Homo sapiens: one gene and its partners. The protein of the gene in region 3 interacts with the protein of the main gene of each other region in a biochemical or structural test. Each region holds a gene or a part of one and is shown on either strand. Other genes may lie near its edges.

Evidence for each region. Proteins that work in one complex are often made in the same cells at the same time.
Region 1: the proteins of PDS5B (region 3) and RAD51 form a complex in vitro, tested with the Homo sapiens proteins (one study listed by BioGRID).
Region 2: the proteins of PDS5B (region 3) and CDCA5 form a complex in vitro, tested with the Homo sapiens proteins (one study listed by BioGRID).

The regions. Positions count from the first base shown.
Region 1 is NC_000015.10:40,725,388-40,732,840, forward strand, and holds the end of RAD51 (DNA repair protein RAD51 homolog 1), read left to right. Parts: intron 1-3,323; coding exon 3,324-3,437; intron 3,438-4,117; coding exon 4,118-4,247; intron 4,248-4,465; coding exon 4,466-4,587; intron 4,588-5,667; coding exon 5,668-5,791; 3' UTR 5,792-6,953; downstream 6,954-7,453.
Region 2 is NC_000011.10:65,076,953-65,081,826, reverse strand, and holds the end of CDCA5 (sororin), read left to right. Parts: intron 1-2,039; coding exon 2,040-2,474; intron 2,475-2,639; coding exon 2,640-2,720; 3' UTR 2,721-4,374; downstream 4,375-4,874. UniProt on the Homo sapiens protein: Regulator of sister chromatid cohesion in mitosis stabilizing cohesin complex association with chromatin. May antagonize the action of WAPL which stimulates cohesin dissociation from chromatin.
Region 3 is NC_000013.11:32,581,506-32,590,114, forward strand, and holds the start of PDS5B (sister chromatid cohesion protein PDS5 homolog B), read left to right. Parts: upstream 1-4,946; 5' UTR 4,947-5,088; intron 5,089-5,763; exon of another isoform or gene 5,764-5,903; intron 5,904-8,609. UniProt on the Homo sapiens protein: Regulator of sister chromatid cohesion in mitosis which may stabilize cohesin complex association with chromatin. May couple sister chromatid cohesion during mitosis to DNA replication.

The sequences.
Region 1 (7,453 bases), on a different chromosome or scaffold from region 3:
TATCAAGAAAAAAATTTTATAATTGAATTATATTTCTGAGAATGTCACAAGGCCTCCTTAAGCTAATAAAAATAGCCCTCTTTCATTCACAACAAAAGAGCCCTTACTGATTAATTTTTGCCGTGCCCTGTTGAAGAATATTAGCCCACATGCATGTTACTGTAGCTCTGGGGTTCCCAGAACATGGTCCCCAGAACAGCAGCATTATCATTACTTGAGAACTTGTTAGAAATGCAAATTGTCTGATGGGACTTCAGATCTACTGAATCAGAAACAATCAGATACTCGGGCTAGCAACCTGTTTTAACAAGCTCTCCAGGGCCAGACACGGTGGCTCACGCCTGTAATCCCAACACTTTGGGAGGCCAAGGGAGTGGATCACCTAAGGTCAGGAGTTTGAGACCAGCGTGGCAACATGGTGAAACCCTGCTCTACTAAAAATACAAAAACTAGCTGGGCATGTTAGCGGGCACCTGTAATCCCAGCTACTCGGGAGGCTGAGGCAGGAGAATCACTTGAACCCAGGAGGCGGAGGTTGCAGTGAGCCAGGATCGTGCCACTGTACTCCAGACTGGGCGACAGAGTGAGACTCCATCTCAAAAAAACAAAACAACAAAAAAAAATGCAAGCTCTCCAGGTAATCTGATGCTTGCTAAAGTTTGAAAACCATGACCACAATTGCTAGCCTTTCTTGAAAGTCTGAAGTACTGTGAAAGAATGACAGAACTCCTTTGAGATGAGCTTAGTTTTTCAAACTTATATGTTAAGAATAACCTGAGGTATTTGTTAAATATACAGATTACCAGGCTCTTCCCTGATAATTGTAATTCATTGAGTCTAGGTTAGGCCCAGGAATTTTTTTTTTTTTTTTTTGAGACGGAGTTTCACTCTTGTCTCCCAGGCTGCCAGGCTGGAGTACAGTGGCGTGATATTGGCTCACTGCAACCTCCGCCTCTCGGGTTCAAGCGATTCTCCTGCCTCAGCCTCCCAAGTACCTGGGATTACATGCGTGCACCACCACACCCATCTAATTTTTGTATTTTTTAAGTAGAGATGGGTTTTCGCCTTGTTGGCAAGGCTAGTCTCGAACTCCTGACCTCAAGTGATCCGCCTGCCTTGGCCTCCCAAGGTGCTGAGATTACAGGCATGAGTCACCACAGCCTGCCCAGGAATTTGTTTTCTAACGGGTGTTCCAGGTTATTATCTTTAAGGAAGTTCAAGAAACACTATGAAAGAGGATGCTATGGCCGGGCGCGGTGGCTCATGCCTGTAATCCCAGCACTTTGGGAGGCCGAGGCGGGTGGATCACAAGGTCAGGAGATCGAGACCATCCTGGCTAACATGGTGAAACCCCGTCTCTACTAAAAATAAAAAAATTAGCCAGGCGTGGTAGCGGGTGCCTGTAGTCCCAGCTACTCGGGAGGCTGAGGCAGGAGAATGGCGTGAACCTGGGAGGCGGAACTTGCAATGAGCCGAGATCGTGCCACTGCACTCCAGCCTGGGCGACAGAGTGAGACTCCGTCTCAAAAAAAAAAAAAAAAGAGGATGGTATTTCCAGCCAACTTGTCCCAAGCTGTGGGAATTCCATGTCCTGCTTCTGGAGCCTAAGCACAGAGGTTCCCATAGTTTTTTTTGTGAGTGCCGCTGAGAGAAAAGCTAGGATAACTCTTTATTCTGGTAAACCTTCTCTGTTTTTATAGCAAATAGATAATCTCCCTTTCTTTTTTAATTTTTAATTTTTTTTTAATTTTATAAATAGAGATGGGGTTTTGCCATGTTGCCCAGGCTGGTCTCAAACTCCTGAGCTCAAGCAATCCTCCCCACTCAGCCTCCCAGAGTGCTGGGATTACAAGCATGAGCCACCGTGCCCAGCCTTTTCTCCCTTTCTGATAGTAGATTATATCAGTGTATTTTTTTGTTCGTTTGTTTGTTTGTTTTTGAGACAGAGTCTTGCTCTGTCACCCAGGATGGAGTGCAGTGGTGCGATCTCGGCTCACTGCAACCTCTGCCTCCCGGTTTCAAGCGATTCTCCTGCCTCAGCCTCCCAAGTAGCTGAGAAGCAGGGATTACAGGCGCCTGCAACCAACCCGGCTACATTTTGTATTTTTAGTAGAGATGGTGTTTCACCATGTAGTCTAGGCTGGTCTCAAACTCCTGATCTCAAGTGATCTGCCCACATCAGCCTCCCAAATTGCTGGGATTACAGGTGTGAGCCACTGCGCCCAGCCATATCAGTGTTTCTTGAGGCAGAACTAGAAGACTTGTGCAGTAAAGTACTTACACCTGTTACATCTTTTTTTTTTCACCATACATTCATGATCTAAATAGAGAAAACTTATATCTCTTCATTCTTGTTTTATTTGGTCAGGATCGTAAGGTGTAACTCTATCCTAATGCCATCTGTTTATCCTCATGACAGAATCGTGAACCTAGAACATAATCATAGCACACTGGGTTTTATGTAAACATTCTCTTTTTTTTTTTTTTTTTGAGATGGAATCTCACTCTGTCACCCAGTCTGGTGTGCAATGGTATGATCTCGACTCACTGCAACTTCTGTCTCCCGGGTTCAAGCGATTCTTCTGCCTCAGCCTCCCAAGTAGCTGGGATTACAGGTGCCTGCCACCACGCCCGGCTAATTTTTGTATTTTTAGTAGAGATGGGGTTTTGCCATGTTGACCAGGCTGGTCTCCGACTCCTGACATCAGGTGATCCACCTGCCTCGGCATCCCAAAGTGCTAGGATTACAGGCGTGAGCCACCGCACCTGGCCCTCAAAGAATAGGTTTGATTTAGGTCAGGCGTGGTGGCTCACGCCTGTAGTCCCAGTATTTTGGGAGGCCAAGGTGGGCGGATTATGAGATCAGGAGGTCAAGACCAGCCTGATCAATATGGTGAAACCCTGTCTCTACTAAAAATAAAAATATTAGCTATGCATGGTGCTGCATAGCTCCATGCTACTTTGGAGGCTGAGGCAGGAGAATCGCGTGAACCCAGGAGGTGGAGGTTGCAATGAGATCACGCCGCTGCACTCCAGCCTGGGTGACAGAGCAAGACTCCGTCTCAAAGAAAAAAAAAAAAGAATGGATTTGATTTATCCCAAAGACTTGCCAGGTAGAGCTCCAGAGTAGTTGGGTGCTATCATCTCTCTGCTTATAGTTTGCCTGAACTTCTTAATAGAAAGGGAAATACATTCTTTGGTCCTGAAACTACTGTCAGTACCACTTCTTCCCTACCTATTCAGGTAATTTAAGTGTCAGAAACAAATTGCTCATCTGCCTGAGTTCTGTGTGCAGCCTAAAAATGTTCTCTCCTCTCTCATAGGTATGGTCTCTCTGGCAGTGATGTCCTGGATAATGTAGCATATGCTCGAGCGTTCAACACAGACCACCAGACCCAGCTCCTTTATCAAGCATCAGCCATGATGGTAGAATCTAGGTATGTGTTCAGTATAAGACACCAAATATGTTCTTAAGAGTCCTTCCCTGAATCTTGTAATGGCTATTTGGCCAGATTGATAGTAGTTTGAATTAGAAATGAGGAGGTTTAAGTATAATTCCTGTGTTGACACTCTTGCTTTGTAGTTTAGGTCAAGTCACTATTAAAAATGAAACCATAATCTACTTGAACTTGCTGGAAATCTTGTTAAACGGTGCCTCAGATGTTAGTACTGTGCAAATATTTTAATAAAACATCTATATACAGGCCGGGCGCGGTGGCTCAAGCCTGTAATCCCAGCACTTTGGGAGGCCAAGGCGGGTGGATCACAAGGTCAGGAGATCGAGAACATCCTGGCTAACACGGTGAATCCGTCTCTACTAAAAAAATACAAAAAAATTAGCTGGGTGTGGTGGCGGGCGCCTGTAGTCCCAGCTACTCCGGAGGCTGAAGCAGGAGAATGGAGTGAACCCGGGAGGCAGAGCTTGCAGTGAGCCAAGAATGCCCCACTGCACTCCAGCCTGGGCGACAGAGCTAGACTCCATCTCAAAAAAAAAAAAAAAAAAAAAAAAATCTGTATACAGGAAAAACTATGAATATGAGATTTTAGGGTGGTAAGGAAGGGACCAGAATCTGACACAGGCTAGAAATAGGCTTCAGAGAATCCTTGTTTCCTGTAGGTATGCACTGCTTATTGTAGACAGTGCCACCGCCCTTTACAGAACAGACTACTCGGGTCGAGGTGAGCTTTCAGCCAGGCAGATGCACTTGGCCAGGTTTCTGCGGATGCTTCTGCGACTCGCTGATGAGGTAAGTTGTGGGATAGGGACAGAGAATGCCTACTTTCAGTGGCTGTGAATTCCAGGAGCCTTGCTAGGAGGCTAAGACATCAGTGCCTGAGATCATCAAGCTCTTAGGAAGAAGAGAGACATTAGTTATTCGTTATTTTGTGGGGGAAAGTGGTGGCAGCATTAAGGCTTTTGGAGTGTCTATGGCCACAAAATTGACATTTATCCTTTCCCCATCAGTTTGGTGTAGCAGTGGTAATCACTAATCAGGTGGTAGCTCAAGTGGATGGAGCAGCGATGTTTGCTGCTGATCCCAAAAAACCTATTGGAGGAAATATCATCGCCCATGCATCAACAACCAGGTAAGGTGTTGATGGGATCAGTTCTTCTTTTCGGAATGTCATATTAACTGTGAAGACATGAAGATATAACATTTTCATTTAAGCCCTGTTAAAGCTACTGTTGTATAGACACTTAGGAACTCTTGCTAATCTAATTAACATGCTCTCGTTGGTATAGATGTTTTAGTTCATAAAAGAATTAAAAACCCACAAGTGTGGAAGAATGAATATGAGTAATTGATATGCCTCTCCCCTGTTATTTAAAAAATGTTTGGGCTGGGCACAGTGGCTCACACTGGTAATCCCAACACTTTGGGAGGCCAAGGTGATAGGATGGTTTGAGGCCAGGAATTCGACACTAGTAAGGGCAACAAAGTGAGGCCTCTGTCTCTACAAAAAAAAGTAGCTGGTGTGGTGGCGTGTGCCTGTAGTCTTAGCTACCCAGGAGACTGAGGCAGGAGGATCAGTTGAGCATAGGAATTCGAGGCTGTATTGAGCTATGATCACACATCACTGCACTCCAGCCTGGCAAAAGAGCAGGACACTGTCTTGAAAAAATTTTTTTTCTTTTTTTTTTTTTTTTTTTGAGATGGAGTCTCGCTGTGTCACCCAGGCTGGAGTGCAGTGGCACGATCTCGGCTCACTGCAAGCTCCGCCTCCCGGGTTCACACCATTCTCCTGCCTCAGCCTCCCGAATAGCTGGGACTACAGGCACCCGCCACCACACCTGGCTAATTTTTTTGTATTTTTAGTAGAGATGGGGTTTCACAGTGTTAGCCAGGATGGTCTCGATCTCCTGACCTCGTGATCTGCCCAACTCAGCCTCCCAAAGTGCTGGGATTACAGGCGTGAGCCACCATGCCCGGCCTAAATTTTTCTTTTTTTAATGTTTGTTTCAATATGGACAATCCACTGAGAGGGGCCAGGGCAAAAATGGATTCTGCCAGGTTGGAAATGCACTAAGGAAAACAGTACAGAAACATTCCCAGGGTCCTTCTAGGAAGAATATATGTCTAAAAAATTTTCAGCTCTGTTACAAAGTCAGGAACGGAATTGTTTAATTATAATAAATTGGTGCTTTGGTCTGTGTCTTTGGGTCAGATTGTATCTGAGGAAAGGAAGAGGGGAAACCAGAATCTGCAAAATCTACGACTCTCCCTGTCTTCCTGAAGCTGAAGCTATGTTCGCCATTAATGCAGATGGAGTGGGAGATGCCAAAGACTGAATCATTGGGTTTTTCCTCTGTTAAAAACCTTAAGTGCTGCAGCCTAATGAGAGTGCACTGCTCCCTGGGGTTCTCTACAGGCCTCTTCCTGTTGTGACTGCCAGGATAAAGCTTCCGGGAAAACAGCTATTATATCAGCTTTTCTGATGGTATAAACAGGAGACAGGTCAGTAGTCACAAACTGATCTAAAATGTTTATTCCTTCTGTAGTGTATTAATCTCTGTGTGTTTTCTTTGGTTTTGGAGGAGGGGTATGAAGTATCTTTGACATGGTGCCTTAGGAATGACTTGGGTTTAACAAGCTGTCTACTGGACAATCTTATGTTTCCAAGAGAACTAAAGCTGGAGAGACCTGACCCTTCTCTCACTTCTAAATTAATGGTAAAATAAAATGCCTCAGCTATGTAGCAAAGGGAATGGGTCTGCACAGATTCTTTTTTTCTGTCAGTAAAACTCTCAAGCAGGTTTTTAAGTTGTCTGTCTGAATGATCTTGTGTAAGGTTTTGGTTATGGAGTCTTGTGCCAAACCTACTAGGCCATTAGCCCTTCACCATCTACCTGCTTGGTCTTTCATTGCTAAGACTAACTCAAGATAATCCTAGAGTCTTAAAGCATTTCAGGCCAGTGTGGTGTCTTGCGCCTGTACTCCCAGCACTTTGGGAGGCCGAGGCAGGTGGATCGCTTGAGCCCAGGAGTTTTAAGTCCAGCTTGGCCAAGGTGGTGAAATCCCATCTCTACAAAAAATGCAGAACTTAATCTGGACACACTGTTACACGTGCCTGTAGTCCCAGCTACTCGATAGCCTGAGGTGGGAGAATCACTTAAGCCTGGAAGGTGGAAGTTGCAGTGAGTCGAGATTGCACTGCTGCATTCCAGCCAGGGTGACAGAGTGAGACCATGTTTCAAACAAGAAACATTTCAGAGGGTAAGTAAACAGATTTGATTGTGAGGCTTCTAATAAAGTAGTTATTAGTAGTGAATGTGCTGTTTATAGCAATTATTGCAGTGCAAGCTATTTCAAGACAGGGTTTCCATAATCTTTTTGGCACTGTATAGGGGTGATCAGTTTCTGTTGCTTCAAGATTTGAAACCAGAAAGGAAAGTCCCACTTGCAGATGATTGTGCTTAAAAGCTAATGGAAAAATAAAAGAAAGACATACCATGGGTTGCCTTGTGGCCCCCCTTTCCTTTTTTTTTTTTTTTTGTTTTTGAGATGGAGTTTCATTCTTGTTGCCCAGGCTGGAGTGCAATGGCGTGATCTCGGCTCACCACAACCTCCACCTCCTGGGTTCAAGCAATTCTCCAGCCTCAGCCTCCCAAGTAGCTGAGACAACAGGCGCCCGCCACCACGCCCTGCTGATTTTTGTATTTTTAATCGAGATGGGGTTTCACCATGTTGGCCAGACTGGTCTCGAACGCCTGATCTCAGTGATCTGCCGGCCTTGGCCTCCCAAAGTGTTGGGATTACAGGCACGAACCACCACACATAGCTCTACAATGCTTTGTTTTAAAAGCCGTTCTAGTCTTTTTTGAGACCGTCTCTCACTCTGTTGCCCAGGCTGGAGTGCAGTAGCACAACTCACTACAACCTTCACCTCCCAGGTTCAAGCAATTCTCCTGCCTCAGACTCCCGAGTAGCTGGGATTACAGGCACGTGCCACC
Region 2 (4,874 bases), on a different chromosome or scaffold from region 3:
TTGATGTTTTCTCTAATTTTTTTTATAGAGATGAGGGTTCACTATGTTGCCCAGGCCGGTCTTGAACTCCTGGGCTCAAGTGATCCTCCCACCTTGGCCTCCTAAAGTGTTGGGATTACAGGCATGAGCCACTGTGCCTGGTCCTTATCAGTTCTTATAGTGTATTTTCTTGCATGTTTGATGTCTTTCTCTCCCCCCTCTAAGAACACAGGCACCTTGAGGGTAGGGACTTCTGCCTTTCCTAGTAGCCACTCATTCTTGTTGATTGACTGAGATTCATGGTACATCGAGCAGGATAAAGTTGCCAGGACCTGGGTGACTGCTTGGCTATAGAGAATGAGGAAGTCGTAGTCAGCAGTGACCACCAATTTGTTCAGCTTCCCTGTGTTTTTTTTTTTTGAGATGGAGTCTCGCACTGTCACCCAGGCTGGAGTGCAGTGGCGCAATCTCGGCTCACTGCAACCTCCGCCTCCCAGGTTCAACCGATTCTCCTGCCTCAGCCTCCCAAGTAGCTGGGCTTACAGGCACCTGCTACCACACCTGGCTAATTTTTTTTGTATTTTCAGTAGAGATGGGGTTTCACTATGTTGGCCAGGCTGGTCTCAAACTCCTGACCTCAGGTGATCCACCCACCTCAGCCTCCCAAAGTGCTGGGATTATAGGTGTGAACCACCATATCTGGCCACCCATTATCTCTTGAACTTCATCTTCAGTTTCTTCCTCTTGCCTTCACTTCAGCCACACTGGCCTCCTTGTTGTTTGACCCTGACTAGTACACTGTGGCCTCAGGGTTGTTGCACCTTCTGTTCCCACTGCCTAGAACTTGGCCATGAGTCACTCCCACACCTCCTTCAAGTTGTAGCTTGAATGTCACCTCAGTGAGGGATGTATTGACCTTTATCTTTTTGCAATTCTAACCTGCCCCAAGCACTCTCTCCTGTTCTGTTTTCCTGTAGTGCTTGATACTGCTAACATAATACTGAATTTTCTTACCTGTTTTTCTCTTAGAATGGGGCAGGGGTTTTCTCTGTTTTATTCCCTGCTGTGTTCCCAGTGCCTGGCACAGGACAGGTGACTGATAAATACTTATGGACTGAGTGGACATTTAGGACAATCCTCATCAGCTGTGTGGCAGATGGACCACAGCAGGCAAGGGTGGAAACAGGGAGAGAAATCAGAAGGTCGCTGGGACCAGCCTGGGCAACAAAGGGAGACCTCCCCTACTCTACAAAGAAACTAAAAAAAAATCAGCCAGACAGAGTGTCACATGCCTGTAGTCCCGGCTACTCAGAGGCTGAGGTAGGAGGATTGCGTGAGCCCTGGAGGCTGAGGCTTCAGTGAGCCATGATCGTGCCACTGCACTCCAGCCTGGGCAACAGAGTTGAGACCGTTTATCTGGAAACAAAACAAAAAACGTTGCTGAGCTGGTCTAGAAGACACCTAATGAGGGCTTGAGTTGGTCAGAGGAGAGGCTGGATGCTGGGCACATTTTGGAAACAAGCGACAGCACCAGCAGATGGGGGCAAGTCCATTTGTGTCACAAAAGCAGACTCCTTGGAAGCAATGGTGGGTTGTTTTCTTCTCTCCATGTCTCTTTCAGGGTCTGATTTGTCCCTTCCTTAAAAAAAGTGTGTGTTGGCCGGGCATGGTGGCTCACGCCTGTAATCCCAGCACTTTGGGAGGCCGAGGCGGGCGGATCACGAGGTCAGGAAATCGAGACCCTCCTGGCTAACACGGTGAAACCCCGTCTCTACTAAAAATACAAAAAATTAGCCGGGCGAGGTGGCGGGCGCCTGTAGTCCCAGCTACTCGGAAGGCTGAGGCAGGAGAATGGCGTGAACCCGGGAGGCGGAGCTTGCAGTGAGCCGAGATCATGCCACTGCACTCCAGCCTGGGCGAGAGAGCAAGACTCCGTCTCAAAAAAAAAAAAAAAAAGTGTGTGTCCTGTGGGTCTTTCCACCCTGAATCTTCTCGGGCTTTTCTGGAAGTAAGCAGTCCAGCTAAGTATTGAGGGCATCCCCTCTTCTGTCCTGGTGCAGATTTCCTTTTTCTTGGAGAAAGAAAACGAGCCCCCTGGCAGGGAGCTTACTAAGGAGGACCTTTTCAAGACACACAGCGTCCCTGCCACCCCCACCAGCACTCCTGTGCCGAACCCTGAGGCCGAGTCCAGCTCCAAGGAAGGAGAGCTGGACGCCAGAGACTTGGAAATGTCTAAGAAAGTCAGGCGTTCCTACAGCCGGCTGGAGACCCTGGGCTCTGCCTCTACCTCCACCCCAGGCCGCCGGTCCTGCTTTGGCTTCGAGGGGCTGCTGGGGGCAGAAGACTTGTCCGGAGTCTCGCCAGTGGTGTGCTCCAAACTCACCGAGGTCCCCAGGGTTTGTGCAAAGCCCTGGGCCCCAGACATGACTCTCCCTGGAATCTCCCCACCACCCGAGAAACAGAAACGTAAGAAGAAGAAAATGCCAGAGATCTTGGTGAGTGAGAGGCAGGGGTTTTTCTCTGCCGTGTGCTCTGGGAGACGTGCAGGGCTGGGGCTCTGGCTCTTTTGGGGGATAGGCAGCACCTGCAGGGTGTGGGTGAGATGCTCCAGCCACCATGTTCCCTTCTCACTCACCTGCTCCTCATTTCTCTTCCCTCAGAAAACGGAGCTGGATGAGTGGGCTGCGGCCATGAATGCCGAGTTTGAAGCTGCTGAGCAGTTTGATCTCCTGGTTGAATGAGATGCAGTGGGGGGTGCACCTGGCCAGACTCTCCCTCCTGTCCTGTACATAGCCACCTCCCTGTGGAGAGGACACTTAGGGTCCCCTCCCCTGGTCTTGTTACCTGTGTGTGTGCTGGTGCTGCGCATGAGGACTGTCTGCCTTTGAGGGCTTGGGCAGCAGCGGCAGCCATCTTGGTTTTAGGAAATGGGGCCGCCTGGCCCAGCCACTCACTGGTGTCCTGTCTCTTGTCGTCCTGTCCTTCCTATCTCCCCAAAGTACCATAGCCAGTTTCCAGATGGGCCACAGACTGGGGAGGAGAATCAGTGGCCCAGCCAGAAGTTAAAGGGCTGAGGGTTGAGGTGAGAGGCACCTCTGCTCTTGTTGGGAGGGGTGGCTGCTTGGAAATAGGCCCAGGGGCTCTGCCAGCCTCGGCCTCTCCCTCCTGAGTTGCCTTCTGTTGGTGGCTTTCTTCTTGAACCCACCTGTGTAAAGAGGTTTTCAGTTCCGTGGGTTTCCCCTTTGATTCTGTAAATAGTCCCAGAGAGAATTCGTGGGCTGAGGGCAATTCTGTCTTGGAGGAAGAAGCTGGACATTCAGCCTGTGGAGTCTGAGTTTTGAAGGATGTAGGGAGCCTTAGTTGGGTCTCAGACCATAAGTGTGTACTACACAGAAGCTGTGTTTTCTAGTTCTGGTCTGCTGTTGAGATGTTTGGTAAATGCCAGGTTGATAGGGCGCTGGCTGCTTGGAGCAAAGGGTGCATTTCAGGGTGTGGCCACCAGGTGCTGTGAGTTTCTGTGGCTCATGGCCTCTGGGCTGGTCCCTTGCACAGGGCCCACGCTGGAGTCTTACCACTCTGCTGCAGGGGTGGAAGGTGGCCCCTCTTGTCACCCATACCCATTTCTTACAAAATAAGTTACACCGAGTCTACTTGGCCCTAGAAGAGAAAGTTGAAGAGTCCCAGACCTACTAGCATTTTGCAACTATGCTTGTAAAGTCCTCGGAAAGTTTCCTCGCGTACCAGACAGCGGCGGGGGCTGATAGCAATTTTAGTTTTTGGCCTCCCTATCCTCTCACATGAGAACACTGCCTGGATGCATCTCATGATCTCTGGAGAATTTCCCCATCTTTCTCTTCTTTCCATCGTGTGGATTCAATAGTGTGGATTTGAAGGCTGCCCTGCCCCCGACTCTCCTGCCGCACCCCTGGCCATTGTACCTTTTGATGTTTAGAAGTTCGTGGAAGTAGACGCTGAGGTGTGCAGAGGAGCTGGTGGATAACAGAGAATGCCAGGGAAGATGAGTGCTGGGTCAGGGTACTTGGATGAAACGGTGCAGGCCAGGCGGGCCCTAATAAAACCCTCTGCCAGGTCTGGGAGTCCCAGGCCATCTGCTCAACGCTCTGTGGTTTGTCAGACCTGCAAGCAAGCCCCCTGCTGGGGAAGCCTAGGTGTCCTTGAGCTGAACCGCACTGAAGAACTCTTGTCCTCACTGGCTGATGCAGCAGAACTCTTGGGAAATGTCTTAGTCCTGCAGAATCAGGAGTCACCAGATGATGCAGAGTTGAGATCATCATTGCAAAGTTCTCTGTTCCTGAGGAACTAAATTTAAGGAAAAAATGGGATTTTGTTTTAGAGTTGGAAAAAAAGCCTGATTAAAGAGTTTCTGCCTGTTCATGGACTGTGTTTCTTTTATTGAGTCAAAGGCAGAGCCGAAGGTAAGGCCAGGCCTCCAGTGGGCTGCATCACTGGGGTTGTCCCTTTGTCCAGGCGCTCCCAGCCCCGCTTCCCCGCATTCGCCCCATGGTAGATCACTGTGCCCCACACACTTTTTTTTTTCTTTGAGACAGAGTCTAGCTCTGTCTCCCAGGCTGGAGTCCAGTGGCGTGATCTCAGTTGACTGCAACCTCTGCCTCCCAGGTTCAAGCGATTCTCCTGCCTCAGCCTCCCAAGTAGCTGGGGTTACAGGTGCCCACCACCACGCCTGGCTAATTTTTATATTTTTATTAGAGATGAGGTTTCACCATGTTGGCCAGGCTGGTCTTGAACTCTGACCTCAAGTGATCTGCCCTCCTCGGCCTCCCAAAGTGTTGGGATTACAGGCGTGAGCCACTGCGCCTGGCCTGTCCTGCCCCGTGTCTTGTTTATTTCTGTCCAGTCCCCAGTCTGCTCCTCTT
Region 3 (8,609 bases):
TTAGGAGTCAATTTACTTGGAATAAGAGGTGATACAAACTTGGTTCCATATAGAGTGAGCTACTACCCTATGCTCAAAAACAGGCTGCTTGCCTAGAACAGAAACGTGAAACTGAAAAATTGTTTTGGAGTTTTTGGCCATCTTACACTGGAATGCTGATTTTTAAATTAAAAAAAAATTTTTTTTGAGACAGAATCTTGTTCTGTTGCCCAGGCTGGAGTGCCATGGTACGATCACTGCTTACTGGAACCTCTCCTCATCTCAAGTGATCCTCTCTCCTCAGCCTCCCGAGTAGCTGGAACTACAGGTGCATGCCACCATGCCCAGCTAACTATTTATTTTTTATAGAGGGAGGTCTTGCTATGTTGCCCAGGCTTGTCTCAAACTCCTGGGCTCAAGCTATCTGTCCACCTCAGCCTCCCAAAGTGCTGGGATTGCAGGAATGAGTCACCATGCCCGGCCTGTAGATTTTTCAAATAGCGCAAAAGTAAATAACATTGATTAGTGATTGCATGTGAATATATGTGAAACATATTATATTGAAGGAATTTATACGCCTTTGCACAAATATTCAAAGCAGCAGTCTAAATTCTCCTTTGTCATTCTCCTTACTTTTCAAGTGAAATTGCTCTTGGTTCTATATCTCTTTATTATTTCCAGAAGTTGAACTGATGATAAATGCTTTCTTAAACCCAAATCTCTCTTTGGATGATAATGCAAGCTACGATATTTTGTGTAAAAATTTCTGACATCTATCTTTGGAACTCTTTAAAAAAGTTAGATGTATCAAACATATTCCAATATAGTTTCTGAAGATCTAGTTTACAGAAATTTCCCAGATGATTTTGGTATTCTTCCACTCCACTCGAGTTAAGAACAGCTGCCCTGGGACTGTAGATGAATGTGGCATCCTTTCAGGAATATTTGCATTGTAAAGAGGATCACAGGATGGGCACAGTGCCTCATGCAGGGGATTAATTGTGGAGGGAGAAATTTGAGGCACCAGGGGCTGAGTCTTGGATGAGGGTGAAGGAAAAGAGCCCGTATACCATCTTTCAGCAGTAGTGATGTCATGAATGAAGGATCAACTTCAGGGGCTTGGAGTTTATCAAAATGCCTCACCAGTTTGCCTAATGCCTAAAATATCACAAAGCTAATTTCTGTTGGGCTTAGTTTCTCCTAATGGATATGAATGGGTTAGTGTTTTTTTTTTTTTTTTTTTTGAGATGGAGTCTCGCTCGGTTGTCTAGGCTGGAGTGCAGTGGTGCGATCTCCGCTCACTGCAACCTCCCCCTACCGGGTTCAAGCAATTCTCTGCCTCAGGCTCCCAAGTAGCTGGGATTACAGGCACCTGCCACCACACCTGGCTAATTTTTGTATTTTTAGTAGAGACGGGGTTTCGCCATCTTGGCCAGGCTGGTCCTGAACTCCTGACCTCGTGATCCACCTGCCTTGGCCTCCCAAAGTGCTGGATTACAGGCGTGAGCCACCGAGCCCTGCCTAACTTTTTCAAGTAACACAACCACATTCCAACATGTTTTCTGAGAATCCAATGCCTTAACCCAATAAATTAGTCTAGTGGGAATTTCAGCACTGTTGCAGGCTAACAGGGATCATATTTTTGTCTTGACTAGCCTTTGGGACATACCTTGAATTATGCTGAACCGGTAATGTTTGTCTAGGTAGGGCCCAGTCTTATCATTTACTAATTAGCTGCCCAGTGTGCTCTACTATGTATAATATGATAAACATTTCACCATATTTTGGAAACCATGCTGTAGTGCAGCAAGGCTGTACTCAAAATGCAGTAGGGGCCATAGGGGTATATTTAGGACTGTCCAGGTTAATTGTGTGCATTCCTGATGTCTTTCAACTTGCTAACCTCTTTAACCTCAAATTTGGACTCTATTAAAAAAAGCCCAGGTAACTCAAATATGAGTGATGTGGCAGACTGAATAATGGTCCCCTTACAATATCCATGTCGTAATCCCCAAACCTTTGAATATGTTATGTTACATGGCAAAGGGGAATAAAGGTCACTAATCAATGGACCTTAAATTAGAGATTATCCAAGTGGGCCCAATATAATCACAAGAGTATTAAAAGTGGATGAGGGAGTCAGAGGAAGAGCTGCGGTGACAAAAGCAGGTCAGAGAGACGCCATGGAGCTGGCTTTGCGGATGGAGGAAGGAGGATATGAACCAAGGGATCTGGGCAGCCTCTGGAAGAAGGAAATAGTAAGAAAAGGGATTCTCCTTTGGAGCCTCCAGAAAGACACACAGCCCTGACAACACCTTGATTTTAGCCCAGCGAGATACCTGTCAAACTTCTGCACTCCAGTAAGACAATAAGTTTGTGCTCTTTTAAGCCACCAACTTTGTGATGATTTGTTATAGTGACAAAGTAAAATTAGTAGAGGTGGGAACTACATTTGTGGTTATTCATAATCAAAGACAATTCTCCTAACCATTTCTGTATAAAACCAGCATTTGGACATAATTCCCACATAATTTCTCTTTCTTGGTGTAGAAAGCATTCACAACTGAGTTTTGAATGGTTCACACTCTTAAACTGTCTTAAACAATGTTGTGTTATGTTGCTCCTAATGAATTGCAACTTGGCTATTTTTAAAAATCCCAAACACAGAAGATTATTTTTGTTCAAATATCAACTTTAGATTTTAGTTTTCCCAAACAATATTGTTTTAAATGAAGGTTTATATTACTGATTTCTGTAAAGCCACTTGCAGTCATATAAAAGTATGCCCTTTTGTTAGAAACTATGCCTCATTAAAGCTTTAGGGTTTTTCCTCTGTCTGTCCTAATGGTAATTGCCCCATTGACCCTTACAATGTAGCTATTTTGAAGGCTATCTCCTTTCTGCCCACTCTTTTCTTGGGCTTAATCCTGTGGTGTTAGCAGCCTAACGTGGGCAATATGTATTCCGGGCCTCATTGAAATTCAAGGCATCATTTTATAAGAGAGAGGGTTAATGGTGAAACTGGCAAAACTGCTCACAAAGTTGACGTGACACCTTCAGCCCTTTCAGGACTCACTGCCATATACAAGATGTAGAGTGACATTCTTAAACAATTCATACATCCAACAAAATATTTACTGAGGCTTCCAGGTGTCAAATAATGGGGATAAGAGCACTGAATAATTTATACAAAAACTCTTAGCCGGGCATGGTGGCTCACGCCTGTAATCCTAGCACTTTGGGAGGCTGAGGCAGGCAGATCACGAGGTCAGGAGATCGAGACCATCCTGGCCAACATGGTGAAACTCTGTCTCTACTAAGAATTACAAAAAATTAGCTGAGAGTGGTGGTGTGTGCCTGTAGTCCCAGCTGCTTGGGAGGCTGAGGCAGGGGAATTGCGTGAACTCAAGAGGGAGGTTGCAGCGAGCCAAGATCGCGCCACTGCACTCCAGCTTGGCGACAGATCAAGACTCCATCTCAAAAAAAAAAAAAAAAAAAAGAAAGAAAAAAGAAAAAAAAATTCTTGCTTTCATCCTGGCTTTCTTCTGAAACTTTCTGGCTTCCTGGCTTTGGAGGTTTGGGAATTGAAGAAAATAAAGTAAAAAACATAATAAAAACAACCAAAGAGGAAAGGTTTTTCTAGATCTAGACATCCTACTCTCCCATACAAGATTTATGTTGATGGAACAACGATGTAAAATAAGAAAATTCCTGAGATAATTTTAAAAAGAGGGCAGAAAAAACTCATAGTAGACTTCATCGAGGAATGTATAAAATGGGTAGAACCTGGAGTATTCAGTGGCAAAATCTTGGACACAGGAATACAGTAACACAACATATTGGTCTAGCAAGCACTGGAGGAGACTGAGGCGGAATTGTCCAGCGAATCCCACAAAAATGGAAATGAAGAGGTCTCAGTATCTCTAGGTGCCCGGGTCCGATGGAATACCGATGTACATACCTTTTCTAACACAGTAGCATTAGTTTATATATCAGCATTACCTCTCTTTTGTTTCAGTTGATAAGTATCCTACTGTAATCCATTCATTCACACTTTGCTTGTTCATTGTTGAAACAAATTCTCCCTGGAACAAAATTCTAGTAACCAAATACATCATATCAGGGGAAACTTCCTTACAGCAGGGATGGTATTAAAGTAAAAAGAGGAGGAAGTCCCTTCTTCAGCTCTGGCAGGGACCCGGCTGGGGAGGAAACCTTCCCGCAAGGTAGGTGATCTGCTGTGGTGACCAGGCTAAACCCACTCTACAGCTGCAGGAGGGACTGGCATCCCTTAGAGGTGAAGAGGGGAGGAGACCCACCTCCTGGAATGTGTCCCTGTGGTCTCCAGATGATTTCTTCCTCTAATAAGGACAATTCTGCCAAAGGAATGGAATGCTTCGTCACAGGCTCAATTACTCTGTCTCCGCCAGCCTACCACCTATAAACAATTCCTCAAATTAGGAAAGCGGGGAGATTTAATAAAGACATAACACGTAAAGTGTAGGAAAACTATTTGTATGGCATTCCGAGACGACTAGGTCAGAGTTAACAAGTAAGGAGCAAAGTAGTTAATAATACCAATTCTGTTTACCCATCACAACACCTGTGCTGAATGTCAGGGTTTAAAAAAATCTCCCAACCTTTATCTAAAAAGATAGGGCTACGTAACAATCGGTGTGGTTTTTGTCGGTAGAGGTCTAGGAAGCCGCAAGAGTAGTGGACGCCTTGACAGCTGCCCTTCTCGCGGGCCCCGCGGCGGCGTGCCCGTGTGGTTGCGTGCGCGCGGACGGGGCGGGGCTGAGGAGGGACGTGCGCGCGCGCGGACGGGGCGGGGTGGAGCTCGGAGGGCGGACGCGCTCGGGGCCGTCTGGTCGGCAGGGGGCGCTGCGCACCCATGCCGCGCTCTGCCTGCCCCCGGGTGCTGTCCGCGGCGGTTCGATTGGAGCAGCCGCCGAAGAGCGCTTGGCGCCATTTTGAAGCGGAGAGGAGGAGGAACGGCAGGGCTGGCTGCGGAAGGGGAGGGGGGGGGAGAAGGCGATTGGATGCGGCGGCGGCGGCGGATCCCGGAGAGCCCCGGAGTGAGCGGAGTAGCGAGTCGGCAACCCGGAGGTAGGAAACAATTCAGTTAACGGAAAGAAAATGTCTCTCTTCTCTGGCTGCGGCGCTCCATTTTTCAGCGGCCGCCACTGCCGCTGTGTGCGTGTGTGTGGCAGGGCTGAAGCGCCGCCCGCCTGGGTGCCAGGCGCGACTCGCCTCCCGGCATCGGGGGCTGCAGCGGGTGGCTGCCTGGCGGTGGCCCGGGGCGGGGGTCGCGGGGCGCGGGCCGGCTGCGCGGTGGGGGTGGGGAGGGCCCCGCGGCCGGCGCGCGCCTCCACGCCGCGGGTTCTGCCGCAGCCTCTGGAAAATTAAACTTGCCGCTCTGATCCCGGCCGGGGCGGCGGCGGCGGCGGGCGGTGACCTTGCGCGCGGGCGGGGGTCTCGGGGCCGCCCGGCCGCCCGCGCCCTCCCGCCGCCGCCGTCGCCGCCGCCGCGCCCCTCCCCCCGCGCCCCGGCCGGCCGGCGGCTGTTTCCCGGGCGGCAGGCGGGCGGCGCGGTGCTCCTGTTGAATCCTCCCGCGGGCGGGCTTCTCCCCCTTCCGGGCGAGGGGCGGGCGGGGACCGCGGGTCGGGGCCGCGGGCGCTCTCGCCCCCGCCGCCGGGTCCCCGCGCGCCGCCTGGCCTCCGCTTCGGGCCAGGGGACGGGCTGAGCGTGACATTTTTGCACTGTCCCTCGCCGCTCGCCGGAGGGAAATCGCGCTCACCGCGCCACCCCGAGTGGTCCCCGAGCAGCCAGTTGAGGAAGAGCCCAGCACTGGCGTGGAGGGACTCCTCCCAGGCCACAACTGGGTTCTAGCTTTCCTTTCAGAAGGAACGGCGGGGAAAATGGTGTGCAATTGTGACTCGTTATTGTTTTTACACTGTTATTTTAATGTTACTTTAAAAGTTTTCGGTCCGGAGAAAAACCTTGTTTGTTGTTGTTGCTGCTACTGCTGTTGGTTTTTGGTAGAGACGTGAAAGCTAACTCTTAAGTAGCTCGACAGTTATTTTGGACGAATGACTGAAACCAGAAACGCCGCCCCTCGCCTTCGGAGCTGCAGGCTGCTGCGTTCCTTGCCGCGGACGGGGCGAGCTCCGGGAAGGGTTGGTAGAGCAGCTACCCACCCACTCCACGCGCGTCTTCAACAGCCTCTCTCCCCCAGCGAGGGTTAACCCTTTTTTATGTCGAAGAAAGTGCTTCTCGTACTTTTAATAAGAGGTGATGGATGGGCAGTGGTGCCCAGACTGATCCTACCCTGTTGATGAAATAGTTTCGAAAACTTTGGGTATAGCCTTAATTTAGAGGGTTGGTCTGCGGTGTGGAGAGAGTTGGGTAATCCTATACTATCTTCCTAATGAACTTCAAAAACTCAAGTTGTGTTTACATACAGGAGGCGAGCTGTAAATAAATCGTAATTACCCAATGCTTGAACGGCAGTATAGTCATTGTTCTCAGTTAACACATCCCGAGTTCCCAGACAGAACGTTTTTTATATTAACTCATGTAGTGGTCAGGTAAAGTAATTAAAAGCCACAAATATGGACTTGAAAGACAGCTCTTCATGCAGTACACATGTCTGAGATGTTCGCATCTTTAGGGACAATAAAATGAGTATTCAATGGTGTATGCAGGTCAGTTCGTGCAACAATTAATCTTGTATCTCATGGTGATAGCAGAAAACCTAATTAAAATTTGTAGTGCTGAATATGTAGGTGAAAATTACATGGGAACTTTTATGTGAAGATAGATTTAGTCTCAGAAACTTAACTGTAAAAACACATCTTAAGAACATTATTCCTTATAAATAAAATTTGTACTTAATATACATTTACAAATATGTCTAACAAGATGCACTTTAGACTTTATAAAAATTACCAAAATAGTGACTTTTTCCTCCTTTTTCTGATGGTTTTAAAAATTGTTCTCTTCTCAGCTGGCGTTTACTTAAAGGTATATTTTAAATGGGAAGGTAGTGTTTGTCTTGGCCTTTTTTCTTTTTTTCTTTTCTCCTTGTTTCGGTTAAGGCTGATTTTCCCTATATTAACTTTTCTTTTACAGCAGCTTTTGTTACTCTTGTAGGCTTTGTTCTCTCGTGTTATGTCTCTCCCCTCTCCCCATATTAGAGAGAGATGTGGTGATGATAGTGATTGTTGTTAGGAGATGTTTGTATTAAGCTTATTTGTAATAAGATTCTACCGAGTTGGCTGTTGGATGAAAGTTGTTTAAATTGTTCTGCAGCTTTGTTTAACGAAGTAACATTTTGAGCAGTAGGCTTTATCAATAATTTGTTAGGCCTAAGATAAAGTGATACTCTGTATTAGGCAGGGCTTGCCCTGGAGAGGGGTGCAATGGTAGAAAATACCCAAAACTTTGTGGGGAAGGAATATTTCGGGAAGCTGTATTCTTTCTGCTTTACCTCTTGGGAAATTTAGAGACTGCCTTAGAACTAACAGGAGTGCTCAGTATGATTTGGCATACGGACTCTTGAATGACATGGACTGTATATAACGTATATTGGAAAAGAATACATTTGTGTTTCCTCTGTTAGTGTTAAAGAGCAACAAGAAAACTTAAGGATGATCTCCAACTCACTTATACATGAGAAATTAGGTTCAGATTTTAATTTCATTGATTTATCTGAGGTCACAGTCATATTCATGTGGTGGAACTGGGGCAGCCCTTAAGATATCCTGGAAGCTTAGAAGTTTCCCCATTGTCTTTTTTTGTTCTATTCAGGATTTAGCAATATTTATTAATAAAAATTCAGGGTAGTACATTACCCTCCATCCCCTTCTCACCTTTTTATTCATTTAACCAAGAATAAAGTTTTGTGGTTAGCCGTCTGTTTCAGCGTCTGGTTTTTAATAATTTCTGTTTAGGATTCAGTCCATTTAGGTTGTCTCAGAAGATAGCCTCTTGTAGGTCTCTGTCTCCGGGAGCCGTCTTTCTTTATGTAACATTACTTGACATGGCATTTATTTATTCTTTGTGAAACTTCTAAGAGTAATTTGGGAAAGTTAGTATTGACCTTTGTTTTGTTACAAGATATAGTGCGTGCATGAGTATGCGTGTATTTTTTCATTTTTAAACTCAGTTTGCTACACAAGTCATCTGTCACTTCTAGTTACAATAGGCGTTTTACTTGGTTTTCGTATTCCTGTTCGGGAATGTTAAAGATTCCAAAAATACTTAGTTTAAAAACAAGCCCAGTAGTTTCTCTGAGAGTGTATTTACTTTTTAAGAAGCTGCCAAATGGTTCGCAATTCTGACTCCTTGGAGAGTAGAGGTAAGAAGCCCTTTCCTCACACTGTTCTGTTACAACCACTTGATTCTAACCATTTCCCCCATTACTTGAAAAAGGTTTTAGAATCCTTTCTCATTAATTAGTTCAGAATTAAGAATAAATTTGCTGTGTTGAGACTGTAATTGTTTTAGCTGGCATGAGTGATCGTGCACAGTGAAAAAATCATGATAATAAAACTTAGATGAATAAAATTTATTTGTTCAAATCTTAAAGCCTTTGAGGTTTAAAAAGTATAATCATTGTGTTCTAA